Regions from separate parts of the Homo sapiens genome. Here region 1 is linked to region 2. Evidence: fine-mapped expression QTL. Tissue or cell type: nasal epithelium. Region 2 holds a variant in brackets; the other region holds the start of a gene. All regions are shown on one strand. Distances are from middle to middle.

What was found. PIP is the estimated chance that this variant, and not a neighbour inherited with it, causes the effect. A credible set is the group of variants that fine-mapping cannot tell apart.
Region 1: it holds the start of DRAXIN, and the variant in region 2 is the best candidate, but not a certain one, in a credible set for the expression of DRAXIN in nasal epithelium (TOPMed, PIP 0.55).

Annotation. Positions count from the first base shown.
Region 1 is chr1:11,690,187-11,693,080 of GRCh38, reverse strand. DRAXIN (dorsal inhibitory axon guidance protein) reads right to left here and starts at 1,371. Exons shown (of 7, transcript NM_198545.4): 1 at 1,228-1,371. It also overlaps a transcript of MAD2L2 not described here. RefSeq lists enhancers at 2,056-2,563, 2,564-2,894.
Region 2 is chr1:11,647,150-11,649,968 of GRCh38, reverse strand. It overlaps FBXO2 (F-box protein 2), which reads left to right. Exons shown (of 6, transcript NM_012168.6): 3 at 1-24; 4 at 95-190; 5 at 744-882; 6 at 1,141-1,582. The coding sequence ends at 1,275. Among named protein-coding and RNA genes, the nearest start is that of FBXO2, 5.9 kb to the left of the region's middle. RefSeq lists an enhancer at 1-237. The variant G/C (reference allele first, on the strand shown) is at 974.

The DNA of each region.
Region 1 (2,894 bases), 43 kb before region 2:
GTGATGGGGGAAGAGGCTGTGGTGGTGGGGTTACTCTGAAGTGTCTCTAAGCCTTGACTTTGAGATCCATTTCTGTGGAGCCCCCTGTCCCCACCCCATCCCAGGTCTGTAGACTCCCCTCCCCTCCCCTCCCTTCCTCCACAGGGTGTGTGAACCAGCACCAAGCGGCACCCCACAATTTCCACACACATCCCTATAGGTAGGGACTAGCACCATCCCTGTTTTGTGACAGGAACACTGAGGCTCAGAGAGGTGCATTCCTTTGTCCGAGATCACTCCCAGAGCCCCAGTGTACCCGACTCCAGATGCATAGTACTGAACCGGTTCCAGACACCAGTGTGTCACTGGGCTGGGAGGTGGGCAGCGTGGAGGGAGCATATAGGGCAGGGGAGACCACCGGGCGGAGAGGATGGCCCAGGGAGCACCCAGCTGAGGAAAGCAAGAAAGACTTGGCGGGAAACCCCAGCCCTCTCTCATCTCATACCCCGGCCCCGAAGGCGGCTGAGACCCTTGACGAGCGGACGGAGAAAAGCCAAAAGCCGGCGGTGGGGAGCAGGAGGGACAGAGCGGGAGACCACAGGCGAAAGACCAGCGCCGTCGGGGGAGCCAGGCTGAGTACCTTCCTGGGCACAGATGGGACGGCGCGGGGCCACCGGCGGTGCTGGTTCCGGGCGCACTCAGCGACCCCGGCCACACACCCCAGCCTCCTGGGCGGCCTCGAAAGGGGCTGGAGGGCACGCCCGCCAGCTCTGCCCGGGGCTCAGGGAGTCTTCGAAGACTTCTTCCAACGGTGGCGGACTGGGGCCCCCTGCCTGAGAGACCACCCGGAGACTCAGAGACAGAGAGACAAAGGGAGACTGGGTCAGGGAGAGAGAAGGCTAGTGCCGAGGAGAGTAGGTGCGAGCCGGGACCCCAGAGGGCGGCGAGGGCGCGCGCGAGGCCGAGTGTCAGAGCGTGGAAAAGTGGGCGTCCAGCGGTAGGTGGACGGATGGGGAGCCCGGGAGCAGAGCCAGGGTCCGTGGGCAGACGCGGCGAGGAGAGGAGGCGGCGGAAGGACTGGCGGATAGACGGGTCCGAGGGCTGGGAAGGAGGCAGCATCCTCACTTCCAGCCTCGGGACCCCGCGCACCCCGCCCCTGGGCGCGCCAGGTAGCCCACCTTTGTCCGGGCTCGCAGCCAGGTGGGGCGGGAGGGGCGGAGCCAGGGGCGGGCCGAGGCCGTGCCTTACCTGTCCGGCCGGCGGGTAGGGGGAGGAGGGGCTCGGGGCCGAGCGCCCGCGGGAGCCGAGCGCAGCCGAGGGCGAGCCGCGGAACGGGGCCGGCGTGGAGAGGTGCGCGGGCAGCCGGAGGATGTGCCCGGGCTGAGCGGGACTGGAAGGAAGGGGGAGTGGGCGGGCAGGAGGGAAGGGGGCGGGAGCGCGGGGAGGGGACAGAGGAGGGGCGGCGGGTGGCGGGCTCGACTGCCCCCAGCCGAGGGGCAGCCCCGGGGCCGGGCCCGGCGCGCACCCGGCCAGCGCGCCCTCGCCAGCTGCGCTCTGAGTTCTGGGCCAGCTCCCCAGAGGCCTAGGCGCCGCCGCCGCGAGGGCGCGGGGCAGACAAAGGAGGCAGACAAAGGCGGGCGCAGCCCAGCAGCCGTGCGGGCACCGGGCGAGGCAGGCCCACTCCTCCCGGTGCGTAAGAGCCGCCTCGGCGCGGCCCAGGGCGCGTGGGACGGGAGGGGCTCCGGCAGTTGTGGCGCCTCTGGAGCGGCCCCGCGCAGGGCGGGCGACAAAGGGCCGCGGCGGGCGGTCCTCGGTGGACCCCAACAATGGAGCGAGGCTGCGCGCTCAGCTGCGGCCGCGTCTGTCAGGGCAGGGGCCCGGGGCCACAAAAGGATTATTCCGCCTAGACTGTCAAAAGGGACGGAAGAAATGCCCAGGGCGGGGGAGGCGGGACGGGGAACGGCGGGGCCTTTGTAGCCGCAGAAAGTGCGCAGAGTGGGCAGGCGGGGTTCTCCGAGAGGTCGCTCCTGGATGTAGGGGTACAAAGGGTCTTCAAAGTGCTACCAGCTCACCTGGGGCGCTGACGGCGCACCTGTGCCCTCTTTCCCGGTAGGGAAGGGAGAAAGACAACCGCCCCAATACACACACACACAAACACACACACACACACACTCACACGCGGCGCGGCTCTCGCCACGCCCCGTCCAAAGCCGGCCTGAAGCTTCTCAGACCGGCCCAACCCGGACAAAGCCAGCGCTGGGGCCGGCTCATCCATCACCGCGCGGGGCGCCGTGTCCTGACGACCCTGGGAGTCTGAGAATGCTGGGTTATGGGTCCCGTGCCTCCCATAACTCACGACGGGGTCGGTGGGGCCACGGACGCTGCAAAGATCAAAGAGCGATGGGGCCGGACTCCCATATGTGGGAAGCAGCGCTCCCACCTGGCGCCCTGAGCTCGCCAGGTGGCTTCCATTTCGACTGTTTTCTTTCTCCAGCGTGTGGCAAATTATGACTTTGAGGTTTTAGAACACAGTTCTGCCGTCAGGCTAAATGTCTGTGTTCCTCTTCTGATGCCGTCCCCTATGACCTCGAGCAAGTCGCCTGACCTCTGAGCTCATGATTATACCTAAATTTCAGTGTTCTAGGCGTGAATGCAGTGCCCTGTGTAAGGAGATAACGTTTCTAAGGTCTGGCCCATAGGAAATGCTCCTGTAAAATTAGCTGCCATTGTTACCGTGATATTATTAGCTTGGTGGGCACCAGGATGGATTGATGAGAACACTGAACTGTTTATTCACTGAAAGGTTTGAGTCATCCATCCCATAAATACCTATTGAACACCTACTATGTGCCGGCACCGGAGGTACAGTAGTAAACAACATGGACAAGAATCCCTGCCCCCATGGAGCTCAGATT
Region 2 (2,819 bases):
GAAGTACTTCGCCTCCTCCTTTGAGTAAGGAGAAGGGGGTGGAGGAGGTGGGAAGGGGGGAGCGTTCGCTCTGTCCTAACTCCAGTTCTCCCAGGTGGTGTCGCAAAGCACAGGTCATTGACCTGCAGGCTGAGGGCTACTGGGAGGAGCTGCTGGACACGACTCAGCCGGCCATCGTGGTGAAGGACTGGTGAGAGGGTCCTGGGGTGGCATGGGGCTGGGAGGAGCGGGGTAAGGCAGAGGGGAGAGCCAGCTGGGGAACCCCCCGCCTGGGGGTGCTGCCTCCCCACTGCAGGGGTTGAGGCCACGTGGGCCACGGGTCTGCAAAGGTTGACAACTTCCGTGTTTGCAGGAGAACCTGGAAACCCACCTCCCCTCCTGAGTTTTAAATGTTGGCAAATATATGCACATATATATGTTTGTATATATGTAATGTATATATTTCAAAATCAGTCTGCGGTCCAAACCAAAGGCCACTCTGTGGACTGGCTTTGGCCCCAAGCTGGGGTCTGGCCAACTTGGAATGTAGTCCTCGTGTTTCGCTCGTGGGCTGTCACTTTCTCTTGCTGGCCTCGTTTCCCTTATCTGTAAACTGGGAACACTGGCAGTGCTGGCTGACAGGGATGTTGGGCGCACAGGAGGACTTTTGTGGAAATCCCCATCCCCAGGACGTGTTCAGCAGGGCTGAGGCCATGCCCCCACCCCACCTCCCGCCCCCCACCTCGCTCCCTCCCTCTGAGCAGGTACTCGGGCCGCAGCGACGCTGGTTGCCTCTACGAGCTCACCGTTAAGCTACTGTCCGAGCACGAGAACGTGCTGGCTGAGTTCAGCAGCGGGCAGGTGGCAGTGCCCCAAGACAGTGACGGCGGGGGCTGGATGGAGGTGAGCCTGGGGGACCCAGGGCGGAGGGGTGGGGCACGGACATGAGGGGCGTGGCTCGAGGAGACCCCGCCCACAGCGCTCCTGGGCTGGG[G/C]TGGGCTGGGCTGGGCTGGGCTGAGATAGTCACCGGGTGGTGGAGAGAGTTCTGAATACCGCGGAGAAACCGAGTGGGGGAGCTGCAGGTCGGTCGGTGTACCGGGGTGGGGCGGCAGGAGAGGCCTCAGGACCTCCGAGGCTGACTCTTGTTACCTCCACCCCCAGATCTCCCACACCTTCACCGACTACGGGCCGGGCGTCCGCTTCGTCCGCTTCGAGCACGGGGGGCAGGACTCCGTCTACTGGAAGGGCTGGTTCGGGGCCCGGGTGACCAACAGCAGCGTGTGGGTAGAACCCTGAGCGACCCTGCCTCCACTCTCCCCCAGCTGCCTGGAGGGGCAAAGGTCGAGGGTAGATAGGCCTTAACTTAGTCCATAGCGTCCTCACCTTCCCCAAGCCACACATCCTCCTCCCATCCCTTGCTCCGATCCCAGCCCCTGAGCAGGGAGAGAGAAGTTTTGTTGGCATAGGTTTGCTTAGGTAGCCGGCTTCTAGAATGTAGATCCGTGAGGGCGTGAGCTTGGACTGGACCCACTGCTGATTCCCTGCACCTAGCACAGTGCTTGCCACAAAGTGGGCTCTCAATAAATATTATTTGTCCAAGGAAGGAATGAATGAAAAAATGGATAAACACTGCTCCCTTCCCATCCTTTTCTGTCTCCTGAGGGCCCCCGGCATAGCCTGGAAAAATACTTGGTAGGGCTCCAGCTGCTCTGGTTTCCAGCGGACCTTGGGCCAGTATGGAGTCAGCTGGGCCCGGCCTTGCCAGGGAGGACAAAGCTGGGATTGTGAGACCAAGGAAGGTTGAGCTGAGCCTGGCGCCTGACCGACACCCAAGCTGCCCAGAGGCCAGAATAGGGCATGTTGGCGGGGGGGCTGCCCTCCAGGCCTCTCTTGGTCCAGTGAGTATCCTAAGCCTTGCTATGACCCCCCATCCTTTACTAAAGGCAGAGTGGGGTTGGGGGTGTACCAGTTCTCAGGGCCCGGGTGACCAATAGCAGCATGTGGGTAGAGCCCTGAGCGGCCCTGCTTCCACCCTCCCCCAGCTGCTTGGAAGGGTAGAGGCTGGGAGTAGATAGGCCTTAACTTAGTCCATAGCGTCCTCACCTTCCCCAAACCTCCACAGCCCTTCATCAAGCTGGGCCCCTAGGGCAAGGTGTCAGTTCCTTTGTCTGATTGGCAACTGGGGTGGGTGTGGACTGTGCTAGGGTCTAGGGTACCAGTTCTCTTGGGCCCAGGGATGGAGGTGAGGGGCCTGGGGTAGGGGATGGGAGGTGGGGATGGGGAAGCACAAAAAGGATTGGTTTGGGGTTTCTCTTAGTTCGTGCCCACCCCCTGGAGTCATTAGCATCTGGTCTCATTGGCCCTTTTCCAAACCTGGCCCAGAGGTTGGCCCAGGCTTTGGCCTGGGGGAGGGGAGGTGGGGAGGGTCTTGTGCCAGACTCTGTGCTCCGGCACGCTCCTTCCGGCCGACCCAGCCCCTTCCAAAGACTGTCAGCTGCTGGTCCTAGGGGTGGGCATTTGAAGGGCCTGGAACCCTCTGCCCTCCTCTCCTGAAATGGAGACCAGTAAAATCACCGAGAGTCTCCAGCTTTGCCTCGGTTCTGAACCCTGATGCTACCTGCTGTTCTGGTGGGATTGCAGGGTTCAAGCTGGGGCCTGCCTGCAATTGTTTATTCATTCACTAGTTCATTTATTTACAATTCCCAGAGCCCCAACCCCAGGCCAGGTCATGTGTGGGGGCCCTGAAGTTACGGTGGGGAATAAGAGACTCCTTCCCAGGAAGAATCAGCAGCCTGGCCACATGAAGGGTGGGACCCAAGGGGAGGGGGAGCCAGTGTCCT